Linked DNA regions of Homo sapiens: region 2 is linked to region 1. Evidence: fine-mapped expression QTL. A gene starts in region 1. The other region holds a variant in brackets. All regions are shown on one strand. Distances are between the middles of the regions. Region 1 holds the start of STAT6 (signal transducer and activator of transcription 6). Region 2 overlaps NEMP1 (nuclear envelope integral membrane protein 1).

The links. PIP is the estimated chance that this variant, and not a neighbour inherited with it, causes the effect.
Region 2: its variant is the best candidate, but not a certain one, in a credible set for the expression of STAT6 in whole blood (TOPMed, PIP 0.57).

The regions. Positions count from the first base shown.
Region 1 is chr12:57,104,008-57,120,112 of GRCh38, forward strand. STAT6 (signal transducer and activator of transcription 6) reads right to left here and starts at 7,355. Exons shown (of 22, transcript NM_003153.5): 1 at 7,122-7,355; 2 at 4,156-4,292; 3 at 3,598-3,736; 4 at 3,224-3,307; 5 at 2,686-2,824; 6 at 2,521-2,573; 7 at 2,184-2,332; 8 at 1,461-1,592; 9 at 1,144-1,332; 10 at 719-806; 11 at 457-579. The coding sequence starts at 4,271. It overlaps LOC124902946 (a long non-coding RNA gene), which reads left to right and starts at 6,715. Exons shown (of 2, transcript XR_007063334.1): 1 at 6,715-7,834; 2 at 7,950-8,872. RefSeq lists enhancers at 6,481-7,428, 7,429-8,374, 14,942-15,131 and a silencer at 8,414-8,573.
Region 2 is chr12:57,052,023-57,068,127 of GRCh38, forward strand. It overlaps NEMP1 (nuclear envelope integral membrane protein 1), which reads right to left. Exons shown (of 9, transcript NM_001130963.2): 5 at 12,624-12,717; 6 at 12,049-12,163; 7 at 11,097-11,322; 8 at 8,750-8,923; 9 at 3,621-8,037. The coding sequence ends at 7,857. Among named protein-coding and RNA genes, the nearest start is that of MYO1A, 9.9 kb to the left of the region's middle. The variant A/C (reference allele first, on the strand shown) is at 7,219.

The DNA of each region.
Region 1 (16,105 bases):
CGTAGAGAAGTGGTTATTAGTCATCGCTATGGAACCAGACCTCCAGGTTTCAAATACCAGCTCCAACACTTAGCTGTGTGACTGGGACAAACTACTTAAACTCTCTGTCTCAATGTCCTTATCTATAAAATGAGGCTGATAATACTGCCTACCTCATAATGTTATTGTGAAAACCAGACGTGTGTGTGCTGGCACGCATGTGCGTATGTATCATTTAATAGAGTGCCCTGGTCTATAGGAAGTGCTTCCGAAGTGTTTGCTGCTATCCACTACCATTCCCTGCCCTGTGCACTCCATGCTCTTGCTCACCCCCACTCACCCGGGCCCCAGTGTGCATGAATCCCAGACACATGGGGTATGGGGCAGTCACAAGAGGTGAGGGTCCAGGGCCCTTGTGTGTGGCATTGGAGGAGGACTCGGGGTCCCAGATTGGGGCAGGGCTGGGCCACGGTTCACCTGGAGCTGGATGGGGAGTTTGCCGGGGCCAAGTGTGAAGCTGGCAGAGAAGAGCACAGCGCACTTCTCCTCTGTGACAGACTCAGTGCCCTTCCGCTCACACCGCTTGATCTTCTTGAGAAGCTGTGGGTGGGGTGAGGGAGAGCAAGGGCGAGGTCATGAGGACAGAGACCGCTCCTCCTGGGCTTCCTGACATCCTCTCCAAGGAGAGTCCCACAGTCTCCTAGTGGTGCCCCCCTCACTGCACCCCAAAGCCCCTCACCAGGTTCTTGAACAGGGCAGAGCAGCAGTTCCCAGGAATGCTGTTCTCCAAGGGCACAGTGTTGTTGATGATTTCTCCAGTGCTTTCTCTGCCAGGGGAGGTCAGAGTGTGAACGAGCTCATCTCACTGTCGTCAGGTGTGGCGAGTGCATGGGTGAGTGTAGACTACCCACTGTCACCAGCCCTAAATCTCCATGTCTCTGTTTGGGTTCTTAAGGGAGGAGTCCCCATCTTGGCCAAATCATGATGCCCCCACCCCATTCCAGCCCTAAATGGGTCCCTCCCTTTCCTCTGCCTTGACCATTCAGGGTCTCCACATCCCATGGCCCTCCCTCCCCATCCCTTGCTCTTTTCAGTGCCAGCCCTCCAGGCTGCCTCCATCACCCTAACAGCCCTTCTCCAACCCCAGGTCCAATCCCAGCTTACGCTCCAGCCCCAGGACCCTGAGGCACACTCAGCTCCCGCGCCTGCTTCTCTGTCACCATGTCGGCCCTGACCAGCGGAGGCTTGGCTGGGGCCCCCAGGAACCTCAAGCCCAACAGGAATCGAACTCCAGCCTGGAACTTGGTCTGAGTCTTCAGTACCTGGGGGGGCTGCTTCTCCACCAGGAAGCAACTGGGAGTGAGGAGGACACAAGGGGAGTTGGGGGCTAGGTCCCTGCTGGTGCCCTCCCCACAGCTCTAGCCCCCTTCTTTTCTTCCCGAGGTCTGTTCTAGGCCAGACTGGGAGCTCCCGGGGAATACCTGGTGACGAGGGTTCTCAGGACTTCATCCAGCCGGCCAGTCAGCGATGCCCGGGTCTTGGGCTCAAGCTCCCCACCAGCCGCCCCTACCTCCTGCTGTAGCTGGGAATAAATGTCCACCAGGCTTTCACACCTGGGGCCAGGACAGTGGTCAGGGGGCACAGGATTAAGGCTGCTTGCTCCGGCCCAGACCCCCTTCCCCTATACCCAGGGAGAAAGGCTATCATGTGTGGAGAAGTGGGGTGGGTAGTGGGTGTGGCTGCAAGGCACCTGGGCTGAAGGGGGTTCTGTGATCTGTTGGCCTAGGGTCTGGGTGGGAGGTTCATTCTCAGTGCCTACACCCCCTGTGGAAACCCAGCTGCCTCTCCCCCGACGGCTCTTGCACCCAGGACAACTGCCACCACTTACAGTGCTTTGTGGCAAATTGGAAAGTGTTCCCACCCAATAAACCAAATGGAAAAGCCCTCCTATTCCTCTAGGCATGGGGCTTGAGGAGAGAAGCCTGGGTTGGATGAGTCCCCGCTTGTGCCCCTCCACTAGGCCCACTTGTACAGGATGCGACCTGAACGACAGTGTGCACAGCCCCGCTGGAACTGGCTTTTATGCATCTTGGTCCACTCCAAGGCCCTCCCGCCTGGCTTCTTTCTCTCACCTGTAGGGCCTTCAGCAGGGTCAGCTGCCCACCCCCAGCTTGCCCCCTCTTCCCCATCAGCCCTAGCCCAACCTCTCCTGGAGTGGGGCCAGGCTCTCCTCAAACGGTGCGCCATTCCCTGCCAGCTGCTGCTGCCGTTTCCAAATCTGGATCCTCTTCAGCACTAGGGCTTTGGCTGCCTCTAGCTCTCCAGTGGTCTCCTGCAGTAGCATGGCCAGGGCCTATGGGCAGAGAGGGGCCTGAGCCAGGGCCTCACGCTGCCTCCACACCCAGCTCCTGGGATACGGCTCTTTTTCTCACTCCTCTGGCATTCCCTTGCCCTACTTCAGCCTGTGTCTTTCTGAGGTCTAGCTTCCATCCCTCCAGCTGCACTTTGACCAAGGTCTCCACCTGTCAGCCCATTACTCACCTCACTTGGCCCAGTCCCATTAGCAGGAGTTTCTATCAAGCTGTGCAGAGACACTGAGGGTTGGGGGCAGAAATCAAGGGTGCAGACAGATTAGAGGTTCAGATAAGGTTGAGATCCAAGAGGCAACCACTCCTACACACTCCCCAGAACCACCCTGGCCCCCACCTTGGCCAGCCTCAGCCCCCTTCTGCAGGGCTTCTCGGAGAAGGTGGATCTCCCCTACTCGGTGCTGCAGCCTCCGCAAGCCTGTCTTAAACTTGAGTTCTTCCTGCTTCCAGTGGAAAGGCATTGGCAAGTGGCGGAACTACACAGGAAGGACAGATGCCAAGAAGTGAAACACTCTGCTCATCCCTCTATACCTGGCCTCCACTCTCTGCTCTGCAGATAGCGTTTTCTTGTTCCCCTCTCCCCTTTGGCAGTTCTTCCTGACCTTTTGGAATATCGTGGAGATAAGACCTTGCTCCTAGCAGAATCAGCTCCTTATCCCTTGCTCTGTTCTCCCCGGCCTCTTACCTTCAGTCCCTCATAGAAAGATTCCCTGAGCTTGACTTGGGGTTCACTCTGACCCTAGGAACCTCCTTTGGTCATTCCTGGGCCTAGAACACTGAGCCTTTACTGAGGTTCAAATTCTTTCTAGTTTGTCATGGCTCAGGCCAAAGTCTCAGGGGATTGAGTTGGGGTGGGAGGTGGAATATCACAATACCTGTTCCATAACAGCTTTTTTCTCTCCTTGAAGTATTTGTCTGAAAGTGGCCACCAGCTTCAGGGGGTCCCTCTGATATATGCTCTACAGAAATGAGGGTGGTAAACAGTGAGCTTTGCTCTTACCCATGTCCTTCAATCCCTCCAATCCCCAGGCCTGCATTCACACATATACTATAAGGAAGCACAACTGTAGACTCCAGAAGTTTTTGTGCATTTGCATGCTTTTAAAATCTAATTTGCCTGCTAGCTAGCAGTTAACCACAGGAACACCAATTTGCTTCCAGCATCCAACCAATTTTCTTCCAGGGCCCAATGCTCAACCCAGTTCAACCTCAGCCCCACCCAGCCTTGTCCCCTCCCCTCCTGCCCCACCTCAAGGGTGCTGATGTGTTGCAAGATGGTGCTCCCCTCCCCCTGCTCTCCCACCGAGGCCTGAAGGTGCTGGACAGTGTCTGAAAGTAGGGCACTAGCCAAGTTGCAGCAGAAGGCGTCGGAGCCGACCAGGAACTCCCTGCAGGAAGATCAGGATGAGGCTACCTCAGGCCAGGGCTTCCTCAGCTCTCCTGACCCTTTACCCCACAGCCAAAAGCTCAGCAGTTCCTTTCTCGCTCCTTATTCTCCATCTAGGCCCTCTGTAGCTTTCACCCATGCGCCTTGTTTCCCAGTCTTCTAGCTGTTATGAGAAGTGCCTTTGTCCCAGCCCAAACCCCCCTCCTCTTCGGCTCAGCCTCCTAAGAGATGGGGTCTCCATCTGTCAACATTCATAGCCTGGTCTTGATGGGGCACAGACTCCCTGCTAAATCTAGGTCACTACACATGGAATAACAGGTCTCAAGTTCTGAATCCATGGGTGAGGGGAGAAAAATCTAAGGAGAAGGAAGATGAGTTAGGGAAGACTTGGGGGACCAGCAGGGAGCAGCCAGGACTCACCAGGGCTGGCTCTCCAGCCAGTCACCCAGAAGATGCCGCAGGTGTTGGGGAAAGTCGACATAGAGCCGCTGCACTTTTTCTGGGGGCATCTTGGAGACCAGACCCCACAGAGACATGATCTGGGACTTGGAGGTTGCCTGGAGGAGAAAAATAAGGCCACTCTGAGGGGTGCCCAAGAAACTTGGCCTATCTCCTGGGGCAGCCAGGGACCTCCCATAGATAGCCCTCCTAGGGACCGTCCCCACCACCACTCATGGCCAGACCACCTTAAACCAGGGGCATCCTGAGTCAATGCCTGAGATGGGGGTAACTCCTTCAGTGATAGACACAGGGGTGGGAAGAGCTGAGCTGTAGCCAGAGGGATGGGGAGGCAAAGGGAGACAGGGCAGTAGAGCGAGAGCTCTCTTAGAGTGGCAGAGGATTTAGTTGCAGCTCTAGACCTGGCTCTGGTTCTGTGGGCAAAGAGCCTTCCCTTTGTGGGCTTCGATCTTCTCATCTATAAAATATGAGTGTTAGATGAGTGGAAAACTTTCCAAACTTTTTAAAGCGGTAGGCAATGTCAGCTTTTAATCTGTGGAATCTCAATTACATAAAAGGTACGAAACCGAAGATGCCCTGTTGAAAGCAAGCATGGAAAGCCTGAAACTCGACTGCTTCTACTTCCCTCTCCCCACCTCCTGACGCCAAAGGCATCCCTAGACAAACCTCTCAAAATTCTAGGACTCCATGAGATAATTTGAAAACCACAAGGCTCGGCCAGGCGCAGTGGCTCATGCCTGTAATCCCAGCGCTTTGGGAGGCCGAGGCGGGCAGATCACGAGGTCAGGAGATCAAGACCATCCTGGCTAACACAGTGAAACCCCATCTCTACTAAAAATACAAAAACAAAATTAGCAGGGCGTGGTGGCGAGCGCCTGTAGTCCCAGCTACTGGGGAGGCTGAGGTGACAGAATGGCGTGAACCTGGGGGGCGGAGCTTGCAGTGAGCAGAGATCGAGCCACTGCACTCCAGCCTGGGCGACAGAGAGAGACTCTGCCTCAAAATAAATAAATAAATAAATGAAATAAAATAAAAATGAAAACCACAAGGCTAGATGATGAAGAGGATGGGAGAGTAATAACAGCTACTATTTGTTAAGCACTTACTGTGTATGAGGCATTACACTCAGTGTATTATCTCCTTCAGGCCTCACGACACTTTTTAAAATATATAATATCCCATTTTATAGATGAAGAAACTGAGGCTTAAGGAGTTTCTCTACTCTGCCCAAGGCCACTCAGTAAGTGAGTTTGGAAAGCAGGCTTTGAATCTGAGTGGGGATTAACCATCGCACTGTGTTGTTAGGATCCCTTCCAGGGGCAAATCTGATCATCCTAAGAAGTGGGGGAAGGTGGGAGGAGACTTGAAGGAGGAGAGGTGGAAAAGGAAAGTAGAGAGAACTAAGGAAGAGGATGGAAGAGACTGGAAAAAAGGCGGGTTTAGTAAGCTAGGAGGAAAGAGCCTAGAAGAGAGAGGAAGCTGGAGGGCTAGAAGGCAAAGATGAGAGACGAAAACAGGTAGAAAGGAGAGGAGGGGACAGGGAAGTAGAAGAGGGGGTTGCATCCCCATTTCCAGGTTCAGGGAGGACTGGGTAACCAGTGGTTTCCCAGGGGCCTCTCAGTTCACGTTTCTCATAATATCCCTCTCCCAGAGATGAGGGAGAGGATGGGATGACAACTCCCCAGGTCTCCCCAAACCCAGTAACCCCAAGTCCTCCTGTTGCACGTTCAGCCTCTCACCTCTCCCAGGCCTCTCAGAGGGATGGAAAATGGAGAGGTCCCTTCTCTGGACGTTTCTGCTCCAAGACCTTCATGCCCCTCTTTCCTCCAGTGCCCACTTACCCCAGCTCTTTTCTCCTCAAGGCAGAATCCTTACCCCTCCTGCTCAGGTTCCTCCAATAGGCCTTTCTCTAGCCCAAGAGAGAAAGGTCCTCTGGAGTGAGTGGGCACCGCTTTCCTCTGCATCCCCTTGCAGAGTGACCAGCCTCCTGGCATGGCCCTGGCTAGAAATATCCAACCCCTCTTCTTCCCCAGCCATCAGGAGGACACATTTCTCCCCACCCCAACCCATAACAAGGCTGGGTCGATTGGCTTGACCAGGACAGGGGCACCTTTTGTCTTCAGCCCCTTGAAGGGGAAGGGAGGGAGGAGCCACGGCGTGAGGGGCGGGGCCAGTGTTACCTCCCAAACTCAGAAGGGAAGCGCAAGGTCTGGGATCCTCGTCCGCCCGCTTGGTGGCCTAAACTCGCTTATCTCAACCCCTATCTGCCCGAGTCCTCTGATTGTGGGACCACAGGATCGAAAGTTAAAACAGCTTCTCTGAGTTGCCCAATGCGTGAATGTGGCGGTGGGGGCAGGCGGGGAGGTGGAGCCAGTTCAGCACGAGGAGGGTTAACTCGGCGCCGCCGCTGGGAAATCTCAGCGTCTACAGCAGCCAAGCGTGGAGCAGTTTTGAGGGGGAAATTCCCCCTCGTCTGGGCCACCATGAGGTCTACATCTGGGGCTTGCTCACGCCCCAGCCACACCCTTGAACAGGAACCTTTAGTGGAGGGCAGGATAGGGGTTTAACAAGGATCCACTGCCCTCTGGCATCAACCTTCCAGGGAGGGGCGGCCACTTCCCCCGACTCAGGGCAGAGGGGCACTCCTTCACCTCCTTTCCCTGACTTTCCATGGCCCTGGGGGTGCAGGGGTGAGGCTGTGAAAACGTGACCCATGGGGGAGGGGAGTACTGAGGCCTGGACCCTCCCAGATTCCTCCAGGAGTTCGAAACTGCTAAAACCCAGTGCCACCAGCCACCAACACTAGCTGAAACCATCTCTTGGGGACCATCCACCCAGCCAGGGGAGGATCCCGAGAGCTCCCCCCACGAATCCACCCCCATGCACTCATAGAGGCCCCCGCACCCACCTCGGAGGCAACCCCTCACCTCGGCAACCCCTCTGCTGTCTTCTCCCTTTCTCAGCGGGCACTTCCAGGCCCCATAGGTCTGTAGCTCTGTCCAGCGAGTTCAAGGCTGGCCCTGCTAGCACCTCCCCCCTTCCACCACCACCACCAAAAAGAAAAATAAGATAAAGCACACACATACATACACACACACACACACACACACACACACACTCCTCTCCCGTCCTCCCTCTTCAGTGTAAGCAGTGGCTGCCCCAGCCCGCTGTTTCCGGCTTCTCCTTCTACCCAGGTCCCTCCCTGGAGCTCTGACGACACAGAGAAGAGAAAGTGGGCTGGAGGAGGAAGAGGAAGAAAGTGGGGTGAATATGTGTGCCTCCTGTGCCGAGTGGGGGAACACGTGGGGGATCAGGACTGGGGTCCAGGCCTTGGAGCCAGGCTTGGGGGGAGGCTGACCCCCACTTACTCTGTCCCCCTCAAAAGCATCAGCTTTTCTCCAGAAAGTCACCCAATATCAAACAGAGATTTGCCACCCCTAACTGCCTGGCTCCCAAACTCAAACTCTGCCAAGGGCTGGGGTTTGGACCCACAAGGGACTGGGCTCCCCAGGGCCTCAGGAAAAGTAAATCCCTCTGGACTCTGCGCTCCCTCCAGTGGAGGACCCTAAAAAGCCGCCAGGGAGCTCGATGCCAGCCAACTCCTAGGTCCCCCTCCCTTCCGGCAGGGAACGCCTTAGAGGTCGGTCTCGTGACCACTGACGGGAGGGAGTGGGGGAGGGGAACCCTCAGCTCAGAATTCTGGAAGACTCTAGGAGTCCCTTGGACTGAAGCTGGTCTTTGCTCTCTCCTCACAGGGCACCCCTCCTGAGACTGTGGTGGGAACCAGCACAAGCCGGAGCTGCTGCCTGCAGATTCACAAGGGGCAAGTTTGAATACGAATCTGCTGTGTTCCTATCTGCCAAGTTCCTATATGTTTCTGGGGTAAACACTGAGACACGCCAAGAAACAAACACACACATGCACAACTTCCCTGACCACAAGACTACACACACACACACACACACACACACACACACGTGCAGGCAGGCTCACAAACAGAGCCCATTGCAATCACAACACCACACACACACACACACACACACACACACACACACACACACAGTCTTGCTCAACTTCTGAGTCATCAACATAACTAGTGGAGGGTTCTGCAGTTTTTGCTGGGGGAGGAGCTGGAGGAGACCAAGGGATCCAGAGAGGCCTTTACTCCCGGACACCTGAGAGCCCCGGTGTGTGGAAGAGGTGGTGTCTGAGGGGCGGTGGGAGGAAGTTTCTACTCCCCTCCTCCCTCCCATAGCAGGGGCTGGGCTGAGGGGCCAAAGCTAGGCCTATGCTGCCCCCTGGTGCCTGAATTGATTTCCAGAACCAGCTCCTCCTCCTCCATCCCTTGCTACCCCGCAGGTCTGTACATGAGTGCACGTGTGTGGACCCAGCCAGGCAGCAGAGGGTTTGAACACAGCAAAATATAGCAGTTAAAAGACTGGACTGTGGATACAGGCTGCTTGGGTTCAAATCCTGCTAATGCTGCTAACCACACAACCCTGAGCAATTTACTCTGTGATTCATTCTCGTCATCTGTAAAATGGAGCAAATAAGTCTTAACCCATAATGTGAGAATAAAATGCAGTAAAACATCTGAAGGCTTAGAACAATGCCTGACACACAGTAACTGTCAGGCACTATTTTTATGGTTCATAATAAACCAGGTATGAGGAAAGGAGAAGGGTCTCCATCCTACATAGAAGTCCCCAGATTTGGGGGTCATGTTACTGCCAAAAGGATATTGAGGGTGTATGTGCGTATGTGTTTGCTGTGTCTGCAGGACAGTGAATGGAAGAGAAGGGAGAGCAGGGGTGGAGGTGGCAGGCAGGGACTCTGTCCATTGGCTTGTCCAACAAGCCATGCTAGGATCAAGGTGTGTGCACATACGTGTTCACGGCACACGTGCTTTGTATGTGCTCCCGAGTGCCCACTCTGCCTGCAGACATCCACAGACAGTAGGTGAAGCCAGGTTTCACCATCTAAGGGTGTCAGAGCTACAAGTCCCCAAAGACTTGGAGAGGAGGAGGGAAAAGAGTAAATGTGATCTCTGACTTTGGCTCCTTTTAGGGGGTAGGAAGGCGAGGAGCAAGTACTGGTAGAAAAATAGTATATATTACTCCCTCTGTAACTGACTATACCAATGGGAACACTGTGATGTAAGGGGAAAAAACAGAATTTAGAGGCAAATCTGGCTTGGGTATGACTCCATTTAGGAGGTTCACAATCAGGTGTCAATCCCTCAAATGAGAATAATAGTTATACCTACTTCAACAGAGTCTAGGCTAGGGTAAAGTGCCTAGAGTATGAAATTTAAGGAGATACTCATCTTCAGATTGTACAATTGCAGGGTCTGTCAGACCTTCATTAATGACATCTGCACCTGCATGACTGTGAGGGTGACTGTATCACCCTCCCCTGGACCTTGACATCCCATTGAGTGGTGGTAAAGATTGCACAAGAGAGGCTCACGCCTGTAATCCCAGCACTTTGGGAGGCTGAGGCAGGCAGATCACAAGGTCAGGAGATTGAGACCATCCTGGCCAACATGGTGAAACCCCGTCTCTACTAAAAATACAAAAAATTAGTCGGGCGTGGTGGTGCGCGCCTGTAGTCCCAGCTACTCAGGAGGCTGAGGCAGGGAAATCACTTGAATCTGGAAGGCAGAGATTATAGTGAGCCGAGATCAAGCCACTGCACTCCAGCCTGGTGACAGAACAAGACTCCGTCACACACACACACACACACACACACACACACACACACACACACACGATTGCACAAGATAAAGCGTAAGGAAAAAATAACTTTATGTCTATGTACTGCTGGTTACAACCCAATAGTGAGTCACAAAATCGATTTGGTGAGTGTATCAGTTTGCTAGGGCTGCTGTAACAAAGTACTACATATTGCATGACTTAAACAACAGAAATCTCTCAAGATGCTGGAGGCTAGAAGTCCAAGATCAAGGTTAACCTGAGCAGGATTGATTGATTCCTTCTCAGGGATGTGAAGGAAGGCTCTATTCCAGGCCTCCCTCCTTGGCCATTTTCACGTTCACACACTGTTCTCTTTGTATGCAAGTCAGTCTCCAAGTTTCCCCTTTTTTCAAGGATACCAGTCATATTGCATTAGGCCCCATCCTAATGGCCTCATTTTAACTTAATTACCTCTGTAAAGACCCTATAAGGGGGTCCTTCAAAATAAGGTCACGTCCTGAAGTACTTGAGATTAGGACTTCAAGAGAATTTTTGAGGAACACAACTCAGCCCATAACAGCATCTTGATCAAGCACAATGGCTCACACCTGTAATCCCAATACTCTGGGAGGCTGAGGCAGGAGGATTGCTGGAGGCCAGGAGTTCGAGACCAGCCTGGGCAACATAGCAAGATCCCATCTCTACAAAAAAAATTTAAAACAAAATTAAAAACAAAACATAAAAAAAAACAGTGTCTTGACCTTCACTCTTTGAAACTGAAGTAAAGGCCAGGCGCAGAGGCTCATGCCTGTAATCCTAGCACTTTGGGAGGCCGAGGTGTGCGGATCATCTGAGGTTAGGAGTTCAAGACCAGCCTGGCCAACATGGTGAAGCCCCGTCTCTACTAAAAAATACAAAAAATTATCTGGGCACAGTGGCATGTGCCTGCAATCCCAGCTACCTGGGAAGCTGAAGCAGGAAAATCACTGGAATCCGGGAGGCAGAGGCTGCAGTGAGCTGAGATTACACCCCTGCACTCCAGCCTGGGCAACAGAGTGAGACTCCATCTCAAAAAATAAAAAATAAAGTGAATAAAATTAAAAAATAAAACTGAAGTAGAATAGAACAGTACAGAAAATATCAGAAGGCATCAAGCGAAGTAAGGATAAGTATTGTTTAATTAAACTTTTGTTTCAGCTTTATATATGTATCTGAATTCTTTTTTTTTTTTTTTTATTTGAGATGGAGTCTCCCTCTGTCGCCCAGGCTGGAGTACAGTGGCGGGATCTCGGCTCACTGCAACTTCTGCCTCCTGGGTTCAAGCAATTCTCCTGTCTCAGCTTCCCCAGTAGCTGGGACTACAGGCACATGCCATGACACCCAGCTAATTTTTGTATTTTTAGTAGAGACACCATATTGGTCAGGCTGCTCTCAAACTCTTGGCCTCAGGTGATCCACCCACCTCAGCCTCCCAAAGTGCTGGGATTACAGCCATGAGCCACCACTCCCGGCCCTATATGTATCTGAATTCTAAGTCATGATAAAACATACTTTTTAGTGCTGGTTGTGGGGAAAAAAAAAAAAAGCACAGCCATGCATGGTGGCTCACGCCTGTAATCCCAGCACTTTGGGAGGCCAAGGTGGGCAGATCACCTGAGGTAAGGAGTTCGAGATCAGCTTGGCCAACATGGTGAAACCCCGTCTCTAAAAATACAAAAATTAGCCAGGTGTGGTGGCACTGCCCTGTAGTCCCAGCTACTTGGGAGGCTGAGGCACGAGAATTGCTTAAACCCAGGAGGTGGAGGTTACAGTGAGCCAGGATCACACCACTGCACTCCAGCAACAGAGTGAGGGTTTGTCTCAAAAATAATAATAATAATAATAATAACAGAAGCACAATTTGGGTACTGGTGGCCACTACATATTCCTTTGTATTGCTTTTTAATTATTTTGTGGGTACATCTTTCTTCCTCAACAATAACACAAGTTCAAGGAGGGCAAGGACTCATATCATACTGTACACACTGCTGTGCAGCAGCTAGAAAAAACAACATGCATTCTTGGTGGTAAAGATATGAAGGGCTGCAATTAACTGAGTGTCTCCCATGTACTTGGTGCTGGGCTAAATGTTTTATACATACTCTCCTACGTAAGGACTAAACTGATTGATGGATTGATTGCTGGAGCTCAGTACATTTCACAGACAAGACAGTTCAAGAACACTGAATAGTGGACTGTGATTTGTGGAGGATGAGGGAAAGGAGGAGGAGGTCACAAAAGAATTGTGGGAAGCTGCTGAGGGCCCCTAGCCAGCTCTATCTCCCAGGCCTTCACTATTCTCCTCAAGTTTCCATCCATCTTCATACCAACTCATCATTTAATTAGAAAACACCTGTGCTCAAGGCCCCTCCCTTCTGCCTCTTCAGGCACTTGTTCAATTTATTATCCCCTTCATTCTTCAAATCTCCACCCTCCTGCTCTGTAGTTATGACAGCTCTATACTTTCAGCATAAAGCATGTTCGAATCCTTCTCTCTCTCCTCTCTCTCTCTCTCCTCTCTCTCTCTCTCTCATAGAACAGGGTCTCAATATGTTGTCCAGGCTCTCAAACTCCTGAACTCAAGTGATCTTCCTGCCTCGACCTCCCAAAGTTTCGGGATTACAGGCGTGAGCCACCGTGCCCAGCCTGAAATGAATCTTGAAGGGACATAAGAATTATTCAGGCAAAGAACAAGGAAAGCATTAAAGCAGGAAGAAGGTCTAGCATATGCAAAGGCATGGATACCTGTGGGAGCATGGTACCTTCTGGGAATGGGTAGTAATGGGCAATGCGGAGCATTAGAAGATTTAGACAGGTGAGTCATATGATAAGATTTAGTAGAGGGATCAGCCTAGCTGCAATGTGGAGGATGGATTTAAAAGATAAGTTCTGAAGCCAGGAGATCCATTCAGAAGGTTAATAACAACAGAGAGGGAGACGACACAGTTGAAGAGCAGAGGTGAAGCATTGTGGAATGGAGACTGGTTAGGAAGAAAAGTGAAGACATGAGGGGCCAGTGTCAAAGGAAAGAAAGGCAAGAAACTGGAAGTCTCAACAGACTTAAAGACCAGGCTTCCCGGGGGCAAGGGAAAGAAGAGCTGTAAGGCTAGGATGTTGCGGTCAGAATCTAGGGAGTGAGATTTCAGTCCAGCTCTCCTGCAAGGGTGTGATAAAGGTGGTGGCTATGAGAGTGAGTGGCTACAGCAACACAGAGGTAAGTCATTGGAGTCAAAGAGAACAAGGAACCAAGAGGCCAGGGTGTTGGCTGGACTACCTGCCGGAGCACTGAAACCATCTGGGTTTGTGGAAAACTTGAGGTGGACAGGAAGACAGTCAGCTGCTAAAGTCTTCACAGAAGGCCAGGCGTGGTGGCTCATGCCTGTAATCCCAGCACTCTGGGAGGCTGAGGTGGGCAGACTGCTTGAGGCCAGGAGTTTGAGACCAGCCTGGGCAACATGGTGAAATGCCGTCTCTCGAAAAAATACAAAAATTAGCCTGGTGTGGTGGTGCATGCCTATAGTTCCAGCCACTGGGGAGGCTGAGGTGGGAGGATCCCTGAGCCCAGGATGTCAAGGCTGCAGTGAGCCATAATTGCACCACTGCACTCCAGCCTGGGCAACAGAGTGAGAGCCTGTCTCAAAAAAATTAAAATAAAATAAAATAAACAAAGACTTCACGGATAAAGTGACCAGGACATCAGTGGATAACAGCAAAAATAATAACTAACACTTAGTGGGGCTTTATGTGTTACTTCAATTCTTACTCTAAAATTGAAGCACTGTACTTTTTATCCTACAATAATACTATGAGCTAGAACTATGTGCCCACTACAGTAGCTACTAACCACTTGTGGCTATTTCAATTTTAAAATTCAATGCCTCTGATGTATCAGCCACATTTCAAATGTGCAATAGCCATGTATGACTTGTGGCTACTATATTAAAACAGACACGGGGCATTTCCATCATCACAGAAAATTCTATTGGATAGTGCTGATAACCCTCATTTTACAAATGAGGAAACTGGCATGGAAAACTCAGCAACTTGCTCAAGGCTAAGGTGAGAGAGCTGGGATTCAAATCCAGTTAGTTTGGCACCAGAAATGTTGCCCTTAAGCCCTATGTTGCACATCCCAATGGAAGGTGAAATAGTTGGCTCTTAAAGGAAGAGGAATTTGATGTGACTACTGAGGCAAGCACTGGTGGTGCCTATTCAGCAGCCAAGCTTTTCTCCCTTGCTAGCAAAGTCTGGATTTCACACAGGTGTCCCCCTCCTATGTATTCACGGGGTGAATCTAATTGGCATAGCCAATCACAGTATTTCTATTCCCTTGGCCAGTGACCCAATCCTGGCCAATAGGACTTAGGGGGCTTCTGGGAAAGATTTTGTTCTTCTTCAGTGCCATGTTCACTTTTAGGATTGGAATAGCTGCAACCACGTTGCAACTGGGAGGGGAGATACCACCAACCAATGAGGATAAAGTATGAGTGTGAAGAGGTGGAAAACCTTTGATGAATCAACCAGCCCTGGACCTGCTATAAAACTCCTCATTGTTGAGCCTGCTTTAATTGGGTCTTCCATTACTTGCTGCTAAATGCATCCCTAACTAAGACCATGGTGAAGCTATATCGCCACAGGAAATGGAGACTCCAGGGTGGGCTGCCTGCCCATCCTCCCACTACCACCCGCCCTATACACTTGAGAGAATAAGCGATACCTCATTAAAGGAGGAATGTTCTCAAGGAAGGATCAGGTTCCAGACAAGCCAAGAGGGGCCAGGATAATGTGAGCCAGGGGTGGCCCCAGGCTTCAAGCAAGGAGATGGGTGGAGAGCAGTATAACAGTGTTAGGAGGAGGAAGGACTGGACTTAGTGGAGAAGGATGGATGCCAATCAAGGCCTGCCAAGGATGACAGGATGTGAGCAATGGTGGAGTCAGCTGATCTCAAGGCTTCAAATGGAGCCCTCAGGCTGTCAGAGGCTTACTGTGGCCAACCGACCTTTACTTCACAGAAGGACAAGTTAGCCATCCTGGTGAATGGGCAAAGTCAAGCAGCTCTGGATGGAGTCAGCTGTGGTCAGGATTGTGCCTCTGCAAGGAAATCTCAGTTCTCTAATTACTGTCTTGCCTCTCTCCCTTCCCCTGTGCAGCCAAGCATCTTGGGAAAATTATTCATATTCAGTCTTCTCTTCCTTACTTCCTCATTACACTGCCAGCTGGCTGCTGCCCCCACCAGTCATGAAACTGTCCTGGCCCATGTCACATACACCCTCCTAGGGGCCTTGAATGATGGCACATTCCTGTCTTTCTCTTGCTGGGCCTTTCAGCAGTACTCAACACTGTTAGCCATTCTTGAGTAAGTTCTCCCCCAACTACTTTTCATGATTCCTTTCTTGGTCTTCGGCCTACCTCTCTGCGTCCTCCCTCTCAGTCTCCTGTCTTCACGGGACACTCTTTCTGTGTGATCTCATCCACATCTGAGGCTCCACAGCCTGGGCAAGGCTATGTAGTATGGTGATTAAAACCTTGGCCGCTGGCAGACCACCTGTGTTCAAATCTCTGCCCTACCAGGTGGTTGCTTTGTAATACCCAAACTTCTATCAAGATGTGGATCATTACCCTCACCCCAACCCACAGGGGAAGCCACTGTTCTGATTTTTTTTTTTAAGTAGAGTAATATAGGATGTAGTTTTATGTCTGGCTTATTTTACGCAACATGTTTTGAGGTTCATCCATGTTGCTGCATGTATCCATAGTTCTTTCATTTTTCTTGCTGAGTAGTGTCCCATGGTGGATCTATACCACAGTTTGTTTATCCTTTTTCAAATGAAGGATACCTGAGCTATAGCCAGCTTTTGGCTACTGTGAAGAAAACTGCTATGAATATTCTGTGTTCAAGTCTGTGTGTGAACATATGCTTTCATTTCTCTTGGATAAATAACTAGGAATAGAATTGCTGAGTCACAGGGTAGGTGTATGTGTAGTTTTATAAGAAACTGCTACATATTGTTCCAAATTGATAGTACATTTTACATTCCCACTAATGATGTATGAGAGTTCCAGTTGCTCTGTATTCCCACTAACATTTGGTATTGTCAGTTTTTTAAAGTTTAATCATTTTGGTGAGTATTGAGAGGTATCACACTATGGATATAATTTCCTTTTTTTTTTTTTTT
Region 2 (16,105 bases), 52 kb before region 1:
TCTCCATTTGTCAAAACTCAGCAAATTTGTACACTTAAAACTGGCAAATTATATTGTTATGTAAATCGTACTTCAATAAAACTGGCAAAAAAAAAAAAAAAATTCTAGGCTGGGTGCAGTGGCTCACGCCTGTAATCCTAACACTTTGAGAGGCTGAGCCGGGCCGATCACTTCAGGCCAAGAGCTCGAAACCAGCCTGGCCAACATGGTGAAACCCCGTCTCTACTAAAAATACAAAAAAGATTAGCCCGGGCATGGTGGCGGGTGCCTGTAATCCCAGCTACTCAGGAGACTAAGGCAGGAGAATCGCTTGAACCCGGGTGGTGGAGGTTGCAGTGAGCCGAGATCACGCCATTGTACTCCAGCCTGGACAACAAGAGCAAAACTCCGTCTCAAAAAAAAAAAAAAAAAATTCCAAATCATTTGGTGCTGATTTCTGACAAATTGGGAAGGCAGCAATCTGATTAAGCCAATTCACTCATTAATCTTCCCACAGGTACTAACTTTTAAAAAGATGTTACACAATAAAAAGGCAGCTATTTTCAGATATGGTGAGGAAGACATTTGGTGGTAGAGGGTCTTCTCGGCTCTCATAAACTATCTGGTACTAATAACATTTATCATACTTAGACTGGACTAAGATGTGCCAGGCAACAAGCTAAGTGCTTTACATCATTGCTATTCAAAATGAGGTCCACAGACCAGCACCATCTGATCAACTGGGAGCTTACCAGAAATCCAGAATCTTTGGAAGGCTGAATTGGGAGGTCTGCTTGAACCCAAGAGTTCCAGGCTGCACTGAGCTATGAGTGTGCCACTGCACTCCACTCCAGCCTGGGCAACAGAGCAAGATCCTGTCTCTTAAAAAAAAAAATAAATGCAGATTCTTGGGCACCACTGAAGATTTAGTGAATCAGAATCTGCATTTTAACAAGATCCCCAGGTGATTCCCATGCACTTTAAAGTTGGAGAACTGCTTTACCCAACTTACCATGTTTTTTTTTAAATTATACTTTAAATTCTAGGGTACATGTGCACAACATGCAGGTTACATATGTATACATGTGCCATGTTGGTGTGGTGCACCCAGTAACTCATCATTTAACATTAGGTATATCTCCAAATGCTATCCCTCCCCCCTCCCCACATCCCACAACAGGCCCCAATGTGTGATGTTCCCCTTCCTGTGTCCATGTGTTCTCATTGTTCAATTCCCACCTATCAGTGAGAACATGCAGTGTTTGGTTTTTTGTCCTTGCGATCGTTCGCTGAGAATGATGGTTTCCAGCTTCATCCATGTCCCTACAAAGGACATAAACTCATCATTTTTTATGGCTGCATAGTATTCCATGGTGTATATGTGTCACATTTTCTTAATCCAGTCTATCATTGTTGGACATTTGGGTTGATTCCAAGTCTTTGCTATTGTGTATAGTGCCGCAATAAACATACATGTGCATGTGTCTTTATAGCAGCATGATTTATAATCCTTTGGGTATATACCCAGTAATGGGATTGCTGGGTCAAATGGTATTTCTAGTTCTAGATCCCTGAGGAATCGCCACACTGACTTCCACAATGGTTGAACTAGTTTACAGTCCCATCAACGGTGTAAAAGTGTTCCTATTTCTCCACATCCTCTCCAGCACCTGCTGTTTCCTGACTTGTTAATGATCGCCATTCTAACTGGTGTGAGATGGTATCTCATTGTGGTTTTGATTTGTATTTCTCTGGTGGCCAGGAGGGATTAAAGACTTAAATGTTAGACCTAAAACCATAAAAACCCTAGAATAAAACCTAGGCAATACCATTCAGGACATAGGCATGGGCAAGGACTTCATGTCTAAAACACCAAAAGCAATGGCAACAAAAGCCAAAATTGACAAATGGGATCGAATAAAACTAAAGAGCTTCTGCACAGCAAAAGAAACTACCATCCGAGTGAACAGGCAACCTACAGAATGGGAGAAAATTCTTGCAATCTACTCATCTGACAAAGGGCTAATATCCAGAATCTACAATGAACTCCAACAAATTAACAAGAAAAAAACAAACAACCCCATCAAAGAGTGGGCGAAAGATATGAACAGACACTTCTCAAAAGAAGACATTTATGCAGCCAAAACTTACACATGAAAAAATGCTCATCACTTACCATGTTTTTTTATCCTCACTATAACTCTATGATGTACATCTAGCAATTATGCTTTAAGTTTTTATTAGTTCAACCATTAACGATCACCTATGTCTCTTATTTACCTAGTGGTAGTTATGGAAGGAAGAGGAGAAAAGATGTCATTAGTGTACATTAACATAAATTTACTTATGTTCTACATCCTGTTTTCTTCCTACTTTGCCAACTTTCTGTCTTAAAAAAAATAGACAATGGATTTCCATGTAGTCCAAATAACTGAGATGAACTTTGGGAGGCTGAGGTGGGCAGATCACCTGAGGTCAGGAGTTCAAGACCAGCATGGCCAACATGGTGAAACCCCATCTCTACTTAAAAAATACAAAAAGCCGGGCATGGTGGTGGGGGCCTGTAATCCCAGCTACTAAGGAGACTGAGGCAGGGAGAATTGCTTTAACCCAGGAGGCGGAGGTTACAGTGAGCCAAGATCCCGCCTCTGCACTCCAGCCTGGGTGACAGAGTGAAACTCCATCTCAAAAAACAAAACAAAACAAATAATAATGATAATAAATAGGCAGGGTGCAGTGGCTCATGCCTGTAATCCCAGCACTTTGGGAGGCCAAGGCGGGCAGATCATTTGAGATCAGGAGTTCAAGACCAGCCTGGCCAACGTGGTGAAACCCCATCTCTACTAAAACTACAAAAATTATCAGGGTGTGGTGGCAGGTGCCTGTAATCCAGCTACTCGGGAGGCTGAGGCAGGAGAATCACTTGAACCCGGGAAGCAGAGATTGCAGTGAGCCGAGATCATGCCACTGCACTCCAGCCTGGGCAACAGGAAGAGACTGTCTCAAATAATAATAATAATAATTAATTAATGAGATGAAAAAACATAGGTACAGAGTTAATATGAATATTACAAAGGATTCCCAGAGCAAAGAAGGTAGCCAATACATAAAATGAAAGGTACCAGACTCCTATGGTAGAAGCTGGGCCTAGACATAATTTAAGTTTTTATTCAATACACATAAGGCTCACTACAGCCCTACTCTCTCTTCCACCCTATACAGAGCTCTTGGTAGGGATCCCATAGCTGGAGCCATAGGTCTTCTCCCCATCCCAATGGACAAACAAAAGAGATACTTTATGCCATAAAAAAAAAAAAAGAACTAAAATATAATCAGAGTAGTTCCTTGGGCCAAGAATAACCTGTATTTTGCTTTTCTATGAGACAGCATGGTAGTACAACCTGCTGCTCCTGCAAGAATACCCCTTAGAGATTTTGCATCCTGGGAAATCATCCAGTCCAAGGATGAAAGTAGACCAGTACAGACTCGGGACAGGAAGGGGTGGCTAAGAAAAAAAGGGAAATCAGTGGCATGCAAAACCATCTCATTAGAAAGATGAAACTGAGGAGTAAATTGCTGATTACCTGAAAACAAGAAATCCAAACAAGAAAATATTATGTTCATTAAGAAAGACCACAATATATCTATAAAACTTTTATTAAAATTGGAATTAGAAACTATACCAAAAACTTTAAAAATACATTAAGACATTGTTCTTTTTTCTTACAGAAAAGAGGGTGAAAATAAGACCCATGGCAAAGAGCCATCCCTGATAATTTTGTTCCTTTCAAACATTCATGAACATTTAAATAAAATTACAAATATTTAAATAACCCTAAGGTATTACCCACAGGCTAAAACTTGCCAGTAATTCCTTAGCCCTGCTATTTCAATATCAATTCCACAAACATGGAAAATTATGGTAACTGCAGGCTGTAACAGTTTCTAATATTCACATTATGAACTATTTGTTATGTTGTCATAAGAATGTGCTCATGCTATAGGCAAATTCAGAGGTGATTTCACCATTTTCAAATTATCATCAAGAGTGTGAAAGAGGAAGATGACACACACGTGGGATGGTGTGGAAATCCAAAGCCCCACATTTTGGGAGTCTGTGACCACTCCCATCTGCCACTAAAGCTACGAGTTGGTGTTGGCATGAATCTGCTTTGTTTATTCCCAGCAGGCTCTGGCTCGTGTCACATAAGGCACCAACATCCTTTTCAAGGTAGTAACCATCTAGAATCAACTCAATTGTAACCTGAATTCATAAGCTTAAGTCACCAAAAGACATCACTGGGTCATAATTATATAGGTTCCCCTAAAAAAATAAAAAAAAAATCAATTTCTGCTATGTAGAAAAAGAAACAAAAGGTTTAGGTGCCTTTGCCTTGTGCAATGGATATTTCATATGTTTATTAATTGGTTTCAGTTAATATGTAATATGAAGGCATGATAAATGTGTCAAACTGTTCTCTTGTTTCAGATACAATTCTTGGCATTTCAATATAGGTTATTATCTCATATGTCAGACTTGAGTCCAGAGAATACTAGAAGGACATTTAATTTCCTTTCCTCCTCCTTCCTTTCACTACTCAATTCAAAGAAAAGTTATGAGTACACAGCTAGGAACCATTTTTACGTAGGCATCCATCTGAGCCCATCTTGTTTTTTTTTTCTAAAACAACAAAAAGACTAAGGACAATTACATAATGCATTCCCAAGCCTTTTATGGATATCAGGGCCTGGGGGGACTATCTGGCCTATTTGGGTTCTTTCATTCACCAAAATTCTATTATACATGCCAAGGGTTAAAGGGAACACCATCAGTCAAGAGACGGCTGGGCCCTAGAATGGAATCTATTAGCATAAAATGGAACAGTGGGACCCAAAGAGCTATCAGCAAAATTCCCTTTGTAACAGACGTAAAAATCATGAATTTGAGGGGAAAAATAAACTAGTTTTGGTGGGATGCAGTGGCTAACAGGAATTACTTATTAGAAGGTAATGAAGTTGCTAAATTTTCCTTGTTTTTGATCCCTGTGTTCTGTTGGTCTCTTGAAGCAATCTGAGTGGGAAAGGAAAGTGAAAGAAATGTTTTATGCCAGCTGCCTCTTGTATTCCCATTAATGGGAGTCTCTACATTAATGCTCTACATAATTTGGTCAGACTGATGAGAGGCAATAGATTTCCAATGCTGATGAGATCCAGAGCCCTGGAGCCCATTTATGGCTTGACATTCACCCAGCAAGACGCTGACGTGGCAGCAAACACGGCTCCAATGTCCAGCTTACCTCATAGTTATCCCTTCAATCCTTCTTGATGAGATTGGTCTGAGAGATGAGACTGTACTGAAATCACAAGAGCTATAACTGCCAGAGAAAAATTAAATGGGGTCTTCAAGTAGTGACTGAGCCAGCAAACTAAGTGGCCAAGAGGGAGACAAGAGCAGCTCCTAAAGAAGGTTGAAGTCAAGCAATCTCCGGAACACAGAGGATCTGAAGCATCTGGGCAGAGCCACAGGCAGGCAGGGCAAGGACACACAGCACACCAGAGCAGCACCGTCCTTCACTGTGTGAGAGCAACTCTCAGGCTGCAGAACCAATTGCCATCTCCACTGCCTACAGCTCAGGTCTCCAACTACCAGATAGGGAGTAAAAAACAGTTTGATTTTATTCACCTCAAGTCTAAACACGGTGGAAAAAAAACTGGTCTAGAGATGGAAACTATATTTCATGGGGGTTTATTAAACAGAGAAAGAGGAGAATCTTTCACAATTTCACAGTGCTTTCTCATTGAAATAAAGACATGATCAGGAAAAGTCACCCTTATAGGCAAGCTATCACCTCCCTAAGTAGGGGAGGCACCAAAATCTCCAGAGAATCCTGAGACCACTTGCACGAGTTGAATTATTTTTTAAAATAAACTTATGCTTAAATATGCTAGGTCTCAATTTCTATAAATAAGGTAAAAAATAGTATATTTCAGAAGTTTTAATAGTTCTTTGTAGAGAGAGAACATTTTACCATGTACATAATTCACAAGGGTATAAAGGTTTCCCAATGTAAAGTTCCTTTTACCCTTCAACTGTAACCCATAGCATCTGCCCAAATACTGCTCATTTTTCACTTTCTACTATATGTCTCTTTCCTGCCAACTGAGGTAGTTGTCACTTAGGACAGTTTAAGGCTCTGGAAAACACTGGTGGAAATAATCAACTGCCCACCTGGAGGGCAGTCTCAGAGCTGACCCTTTGGAAGTCTGCAATGGAGCTAGGCCTTTCAAAATTACCACGCTAAATGGCTGGTCTAAAGGAGTCATTACGGCTTTTTAAAAAATCATCTGCCTTTTTCCATCATCTTGGTGAGCCAGTAAGTCTGGTGCTGTGCGCTTGCCATGACCATCTATCTTCCTGGCTAAGGTAATTACAGACTTTTCCAGGGTATAAGGGTGAAGACCACAAAGAAAAAGAACCAAGTAAATGACAGACACTTGAGAATTTGCTTCCTCACAGATGACATTGCTGGTTTATAAGGGGTACTTTGCAATGGCAAAAGAATCTGAAACTAATGCTACTGCAATAACAGGCAGCATACATCTCAGGTCAGAAACGCAATCATAAATAAGTGTAAGTTCATGGAAACTTGACAGCTGAATGAGCACCCAGAGGCATGAAGATAACCTGGAGCCTATTTCCTGGCAATGCAAATTGTGGCTGCTGCATAACTACAAATTGTGTATCAAGAAACTACATAGTTTCAAGGCTTAAAAATTACCCAGATTTGGGGGAGTATGGGTGGTGAGAAAAGGCTGAAAGGAATGGACAGAGCATGTAGACAAAGGAAGGGAAAGGAAAAGGAGACAGTTTCCTGATTTCATAGCAACTCAAAGATAACATGACCCAATGACAGGAAAATGGAGAACGTATAAAAAGCATCCAAATCCCCTAAACAAGATGACTTCTCCTAGCTAGCAGGAATAATGCTACTCTGAACATACATAGTTCACAGGTAAGGGAACTGACCCTTCCTGAAAGGGCAAAGGCAGGGTAAGGAAGAATGGGAAGAGAAGAATACAAATGTTTTTTAAGATGGAATTGAAAGTTGAATATAATAAAAAGCCCAGTACATCTCACCTGCAGAAGAGCCTACAGGCATGTTCCTAAAGGCAAATAGGACTTTCTATCATATGTATGAGAACTAAATCAAAGCTTAAAACAACAGCTCCTGGGGCTTT[A/C]ATGGATAATCCATATTAATAAATATGTAGGGGCCTAGGGGGTGTGTCACTCTGGAGCACTTGCTGGTTCTGGAACATGAGTTTGTTATGTTTTTTAAAAGACATTCATTTAAAAAACAAAACAATAAAAATCTATTTTCCTCCCAAAACAGTTAAATCAATAATTATTCTAAAGTCACTGAAATAAAAGCTGGAGTGAAGGAGGCTCAGATTTGTGGATTTCTCTCTGGAAGTTGCAGCCTATAGTCTAAAAGCATTCCTGCACTTAACAACAGTTCTTACTTTGGAGAGCCAGCCAGTGACAGAAATGCCATGATTGAATCAACTTTCAAGAAGGAGCTAGAATGCCATGCTAGCTGTGGCCATCCAATTTCTCTGGAAACATAAAAGTGGGCTGTTAGCTTAACCAATGGGAAGTGAACTACCCAGCATTCACTACTTTATCCACTCTCCTTCCTCAGGGATCCCATAGAGACCTCCCATTTCCAAAGGGAGGCCTTTTTAGGCCTCTTATTTCAGTAGGAGAATTTCTACCCTATCTATCTCACTCTGTTTCAAAGGGTTGAAAGCAATTGCACAACACATGCAACATGGACCAAGGCACCAAGCCAGTCCACGTAAAGATAACTGACCACTACCTAGGTTAGAAAGTTGTTCTGTGTGATAGCAGGACACCGAGAATATGAGTCCTCCTCCTCAGAGGATGCTTCCTCATAGATTTCATCCTGGGCAATAATGCTCCCTAATCCATACTCCTGCTCATGGACAGAAACTTCATTTGGCGTGAGGTGGGAAGAGCCTTCCACAAAGTCAGCAAATCTGGAAAAGAGAAGATAATACTCGTTAGAAATATCCTTCTGTCCTTTCTGGTCTTCTTTCAAAATAAGAACAAATTAAAGCCCTCGATATGCTCGCAACTCAAATTATATTAAGTCTAGCCAACATCCTTGTCCTTACTCTGGCAGGTAAGTAGACTAAAGCATGAAGTTAAGGAGAAAAGGAAAGCTGGGATCATAGGCTAATACCCCTGCAACTCCATCCTGCTTAATAAGCACTTGCCTATCCTTTCTAATTATGAAAGTGCCAAGGTTCCTTTAGTCATCTGTAATCCTGATAAGAGAAGATTAAGGGGCATTACAGTTATTCACGTTTATGGCCCTGTAAACTTTATGCCATCATGATTCCAAATTGAAGCTTCACATACTCATTGGTACATTTGCCCCCAACTAAAAAGTGGGTAGGGGGGAACCCTACCAACTCAGACAGCAATGCAAAACTTTCAGAAGGGAAACTTAATATGGTACTGGAGTCTTCCCATCTTAATGCTACAATCAAAGCTAGAGTAGATAGTTCCCTGAGGAAACAGGTTACTGCTTAATGTGTGATTATATATCCACCCTTCTCTTGACTACTTGAAGATTAACAGGAAAACAAAGGTCACAAGTGCACGATTCTCTAGAAGTATGATCTCTGGTAGAACTCAAGGTCACAATTACCCTGATAGATGCTTGGTATATCTGGCCGAGTTTACCTTTTTGGAGACTGGATTCGAGAAACAGTCTTCCAAGCAGAGCAGTCTGGACTGTTACAAAATTCTCGGAGCTCCTCTAAAGCCTTTCGGGTTTCTACCTCTCCTTGTATCCGATATTCTTCTTCTGTCAGGAGACGAGGGGGAACAGGCTTTTCTGCTCCCTTACACACCTTTCTGTGCTCACCAAAATAACATTATGAATCATTAATCAGTAATCTATATCCATCCTTACTTCTAGCTCCCTTCAGTGGGCCAAGAATACAGCAGACAGCCTGAACATTAAGAGTCATCACTCCTAAAAATTCCATGGACATCTTTAGTTATAATGAACTCCTGATACATTAGACTATGAGTGACAATTCATAGGCGACAGAGCGAGACTCCATCTCAAAAAAAAAGTGATATAATTTGCACCACCTTGTGGTAACAGGAACACATGACATTTTACTAGACCTTTTTATTTTATATAAAATGACTAGAATAAAAATATAAAAATGCCTATAGAAAGTAAAAAATTATAGTCAATATTATTCACTAATGTGAACAAACTCACTTTATTTTCCAATAAATGATAAAATACTTACTTATTTTCTAGTAGATGGGAAAATAACAGAAAATCATGGTATAAGACTGTGGTTCTAGCCAGGCACAGTGGCTCACGCCTATAATCCCAGCACTTTGGGAGGCCAAGGCAGGCAGATCACCTGAGGTCAGGAGTTGGAGATCAACCTGACCAACACAGAGGAACCCCATCTCTACTAAAAATACAAAATTAGCCAGGCATGGTGGTGCATACCTGTAATCCCAGCTATTCGGGAGGCTGAGGCAGGACAATCGCTTGAACCAGGGAGGCGGAGGTTGCAGTGAGCCGAGATCATGCCATTGCACTCCAGCCTGGGCAACAAGAGCAAAACTCCATCTCAAAAAAAAAAAAAAACAAAAAAAAACGCCGGGCAAGGTGGCTCACACCTGTAATCCCAGCACTTTGGGAGGCCAAGGTGGGCAGATCACAAGGTCAAGATTGAGACTATCCTGGCCAACATAGTGAAACGCCATCTCTACTATAAAAATGCAAAAATTAGCTGGGCATGGTGGCATGTACCTGTAACCCCAGCTACTCAGGAGGCTGAGGCAGGAGAATCGCTTAAACCCAGGAGGCAGAGGTTGCGGTGAGCTGAGATAGCACCACTGCACTCCAGCCTGGTGACAGAGCAAGACTCCATCTCAAAAAAAAAAGATTGTGGTCCAGTAACTTGGTTTCCCAAACTGAAAGCATCACCTTGACTATCTATAATAGACAACTTCAGGACCTAGTAACATTCCATATTTATTATGCAAGGTGACAAAACATGCTATGAATTACATCTTAAAATAAGACTAAGACCTCCAGAGCAATCTGAAAGCCACTGAGAAATAGTCTGAAATGGGCTGGGTGAGGTGGCTCACGCCTATAATCCTAGCACTTTGTGGGGCTGAGGTGGGCAAATCACCTGAGGTCAGGAGTTTGAGACCACCCTGGCCAACATGGTGAAACCACATCTCTATTAAAAATACAAAAATTAGCCAGGCATAGTGGCGCCCACCCGTAGTCCCAACTATTCGGGAGGCTGAGGCAGAAGAATCACTTGAACCCGGGAGGTGGAGGCTGCAGTGAGCCGAGATCACGCCATTGTGCTCCAGCCTGGGTGACAGAGAGAGACTCTGTCTCAAAAAAAAAATCTGAACCCAGGAGACCTCAATGAGCATACGGTATAAAAGCGATACAATTTGTGGCGGGGCGCAGTGGCTCATGTCTGTAATCCCAGCACTTTGTAATCCAAGCACTTTGGGAGCTCCTCAGCACTTTATGAACTCCTGACATTTGAGGTCAGGAGTTCAAGACCAGCCTGGTCAACATGGGGAACCCTACTAAAAATATAAAAATTAGCTGAATGTGGTGGCGCATGCCTGTAATCCCAGCTACTCAGGAGGCTGAGGCAGAAGAATCGTTTGAACCCGGGAGGTGGAGGTTGCAGTGAGCCGAGATCACGCCACTGCACTCCAGCCTGGGCGACAGAGCGAGACTCCATCTCAAAAAAACAGTGATAGAATTTGCACCACCTTGTGGTAACAGGAACACATGACATTTTACTAGACATTTTATATAAAATGACTAGAATAAAAATATAAAAATTCCTATAGAAAGTAAAAAAAAAAAAATAGACTCGGGAAGGAACAAAAGTGGAAGTACAATACAATGACTTTTCATTAACAAAGAAGCTCCCAGGTCAACACCTCTGTATCCTCTTGCTGCAACTGCATCCCACAATGTACCTGTCAATATTAAGTTACATTGCCTTTCAGTCACCTGCAGGTGATGTACAGCCACTGAATAGGGTGTTCCAGGTTCTTAGTACAAAGAGCAATGATGATAATGGCAAGGGCAATATGTGGTATCTGGATGCCAGAATACATGAAACACAGGCCCATCAGCTGCAAGGTCCAGGTCAGCAGGTTGATACTTCGTTCATTCTCCAAGGGCCCATACTTGTAACATACTGCAAAACTCATGAATCCAACTGTGAGGACATAACCTATGAGAAGAGTTATCAGAAGACATTCTTTTTCATCTATACTTGGTAAAAATAATTTGTGTGGGAAGCAGTAGTTAATTTACTATATAGCACCAATTGAACTAGGAAATCAGATTTTTACTTAATTTTTCACACTTTTTTCTTAGAATATATTTCTCTAAGTTTCTATCCTTTCTGCTGTCCCAAATTTATTTGGTTCAAACAGAACATTAAAGGTACATGTTGAACAACCCTGAAATAGACTATTTTAAAAAACCAATATACAGAAATCCAGATTAATCACCCTTCAAAGGATAACTCAAAGGTTACTATCTATATGACCAAGGATTTTTACTTTGTAAATAAAATCTACAGCAGTTCATTCAGAAATGAAGGAGAAAAAAATTAACTGCGGAGTCTTTTACTTAAGGTCCCCAAGTATATTTAAAATATGATTCCATTAATAAAGTCAACTTACAGCTTTTCAGAAAGATGTTTATTGTGTAAAGAAAGGTATATTTATAAATACCAATAAATGAACATCTTCGCCTTAACAGCACCATTCTAATTTAAGAGAAGGTGATAATTGTAGAGGGATTAGAAATAAGTGAAAAACTATGATTTTTAAAAGTTTAAAAAAATGACATGAACTATTAAATCCCATAAGCAGGCAAAATCTTTTCATGATCAAATTAACTGAAACAGCCTATAAACGTACAAAAGGAAAGCAAAACCGACAACACTTACTTAAAAGATACTGCCAGTAACACCTCCAGATCTCTTGTAAATTTTTAAAAACTAGTTGAATGAGGTACAGAGAAAAAGACCAGCCTCCCACCAGGATGACGTAAATGGGACTTTTCTAAGACAGAGAGTAGAAGTGAAAGCAAAAAGTTACAACAGGCTTTCCATACATAAAAGAAGCAAAATGGAACTATGATTTTTTTTTTAAAAAATTCAACCTACTCAAAATGCACAAAAAACACTTCTCTTAAAAAGATGTCCTTTATACTTAAAATGGTACAGTCTGCAACGAACACTGGGAAGATGAAATGCTAAATAACTTAAAAGCCTGGCTATATAATTAAAAAACAGGAAGCAGACTTTAATCCCCCTCTGAGCACAGGATTTTATATAAAAAGAAAGAATTTGTAATCAGGCTCCAAGTTTCATCGTGGAAAGTACCTTTCTGAATCAAGGAGAGTAGGATATTGACTCATCAGCCATCAATACACATTTTCAGTTTTCTAAGATTACCCAGGAAAACAGTCCTTCAGCTATCCAAATTCATTCTAGCTGCACATGAAGATTCTGATACTTACCTTAGGCATAAACTTAGATAGTATAAAAATGATGATTAGCAGAGAGGCCACAATTCCCACAGTCATCCCAGTAGAGTAGTAGAAAATTTGACTTCTGCAGGAAAAAAATGTATTTCATGACCATATGTATATATTTCATACATAGCACTGTTGAAACTAGGACAACTAACCCAGCCGAAAGATTTTAAAAGGTACAAGATTAGAGCAGTACAAGCATCAGAGACATTTCAAATTTGGTTCCAGACCACTGCAATAAACCAAATATTGCAATTGCAGTAAGTAAGTCACACAAATTTTTTGGTTTCCCACTGCATATAAAAATTGTTTACACTATATTATAGTATATTAAGTGTACAACAGCATTATGTCTTAAAAATATATATTCCTTAATTAAAAATACTTTGCTAAAACCTGCTAAAGATCATCTACGCCTTCAGTGAGTCATCATTTTTTTTGCTGGTGGAGGGTCTCACTTCCATGTTGATGGCTGTTGACTGATGAAGGCAGTGGTTTCTGAAGGCTGGAGTGGCTGTGGCAATTTCTTAAAATATAATGAAGTTTGCTGCATTGACTCATCCTTTCAATGAAGATTTCTCTAAAGCATGCAATACTGTCTGATAGCATTTTACCACAACTTCTTTCAAAACTGGAGTCAATCCTCCAACAGCATTAACCCTTAACAAGAGGATCACCCCTCCTTTGAAGCTAGGCACTGACTTCTCTCTCGCTATCAAAGTCCTCAATGGCATCTTCTTCTAGTATAAGGCTATTTTGTCTACACTGAGGAGCTCTTTAATTGTAGCCACTTTCAACAATGATGTTAGCTAGATCTTCTGAATAACTTGCTACAGCTTCTATATCAGTGCTTGGTTCATCTTTTTTTTTTTTTTTTTTGAGACAAAGTCTCACTCTGTTGCCCAAGCTGGGGTGCGATGGCGTCATCATGGCTCACTGCAGCCTTGATCTACTGGGCCCAGGTGATTCTCCCACCTCAGCCTCCCGAGTAGCTGGTACCATGACTTTTTTGTATTTTTTGTAAAGGCAGGGTTTCACCATGTTGCTCAGGCTGGTCTCGAACTCCCTGGGCTCAAGTGATCTGCCCGCCTCAGCCTCCCAAAGTGCTGGGACTACAGGCCTGAGCCACCACGCCTAGCCTACCTTGCACTTATGTAATAAGACAGCTTCTTTCCTTAAATCTCATGAACCAAGAACCTTCACTAGCTGTAAACTTTTCTTCTGAGGCTTCCTCACCTCTCACCCTTCACAGAATTGAAGACAGTTAGGGTCTTGCTCTGGATCAGCCTTTAGCTTTAAAAAAGTTGTATCTGGCCGGGCATGGTGGCTCAAGCCTGTAATCCCAGCACTTTGGGAGGCTGAGATGGGAGGATCACGAGGTCCGGAGATCGAGACCATCCTGGTTAACACGGTGAAACCCTGTCTCTACTAAAAATACAAAAAAATTAGCTGGGTGTGGTGGCAGGCGCCTATAGTCCCAGCTACTAGGGAGGCTGAGGCAGGAGAATGGCATGAACCTGGGAGGCGGAGCTTGCAGTGAGCCGAGATCACGCCACTGCACTCCAGCCTGGGCAAGAGAGCAAGACTCTGTCTCAAAAAAACAAACAAACAAACAAAAAAAGAGTTGTATCTGGTTTAATCTTCTCAACAGCCAACTAAAACTCTCTCCATATCAGCAATAAGGCTGTTTCACTTTCTTATCACTTGTGTGTTCCCTGGAGTAGCACTTTTAATTTCCTTCAAGAACTTTCCCTTTGCACTCACAACTTGGCTAACTGCTCAGGACAAGAGGTCTAGCTTTCGGTCTGTCTTGGCTTTTGCTGTTCTCACTAAGCATAATCAGAGAGATGTATGACTCTTCCTTTCAGTTGAAGACTCACAATCTACTCTAGGGTTATTAATTGGCCTAGTTTCAATATTGCTGTTTCTCAGGGAATAGGGAGGCCCAAGAAGAAGGGAGACGGGAATAACCAATTGGTTGAGTTGTTAGAACACCCATGACATTTATCGATGAAGTTCACTGTCTAATATGGTTTGGCTGTGTCCCCACCCAAATCTCATCTTGAATTGTAGCTCCCATCATTCCCACGTGTTGTAGGAGGGAACTGGTGGGAGATAATTGAATCATGGGGGCAGTTGCCCTCATACTGTTCTCATGGTAGTGAATAAGTCTCATGAGATCTGATGGTTTTATAAGGGGTTTCCACTTTCACTTGGTTCTCATTCTCTCTTGCCTGCTGCCATGTAAGATGTGCCTTTTGCATTCTGCCATGATTATGAGGCCTCCCCAGCCACCAGGAACTGTGAGTCCATTAAACTTCTTTTTCTTTATAAATTATCCAGTCTTGGGTATCTTTATCAACAGTATGAAAATGAACTAATAGGCTGGGCGCAGTGGCTCACGCCTGTAATCCCAGCACTTTGGGAGGCTGAGGCAGGCAGATCATGAGGTCAGGAGATCGAGACCATCCTGGCTAACACGGTGAAACCCGTCTCTACTAAAAATACAAAAAATTAGCTGCACGTGGTGGCAGGTGCCTGTAGTCCCAGCTACTCGGGAGGCTGAGGCAGGAGAATGGCATGAACCCGGAAGGTGGAGCTTGCAGTGAGCCGAGATCGCGTCACTACACTCCAGCCTGGGCGACAGAGCGAGACTCTGTCTCAAAAAAAAAAAAAAGAAAATGAACTAATATACTGTCTTACATGGACATGTGGTGCCCCAAAATAATTGCAACAGCAGCATCAAAGATCACTGATTATGGATCACCATAACAGTTATAATCATATGAAAAAGTTTGAAATATTATAATTACTAAAATGTGACACACAGACCCCAAGTGAGCACATGCTGTTGGGAAAACGGTGTGATAGATTTGCTTGACCCAGGGTTGCCACGAACCTTCAATTTGGAAAGAAATGCACTATCTGTGAACCACAAAAAAGTGAAGTACAATAAAGTGATGTGTGACTATATTTGCCCAAAACTTGAGGTCAGAGAACTGTAGAGACTGATGCTATGTAGTTACTGCCAGATTATGAAGATTAGGATTAAAGGTCTTCCCTCATGTATTTCCCAATAATCAGCCTTTACGTAATGTCCTATTCACATCCCCATCATCTCTCCCGACCTGAATATTATTATTTTGTCACCCAGGCTGGAGTGCAGTGGTGCAATCACGGATCACTGCAGCCTCAACCTCCTGGGCTCAAGTGATCCTCCTACCTCAGACTCCCAAGTAGCTGGGACTACTGGCATGCACAACCATGCCTGGCTAATTTTTGTATTTTTTTGTAGAGGCAGGGTCTCACTATGTTACCTAGGCTGGTCTCAAACTCTTGGGCTCAAGTTATCCTCCCCCTTCAGCCTCCCAAAGTGCTAGGATTACAGGGGTGAGCCACCACAACCAGCCCCCCATTCCAGATTTTTTCTACCAGTTATTCCTCCCTGTTTCTCTCAGCATCACCAA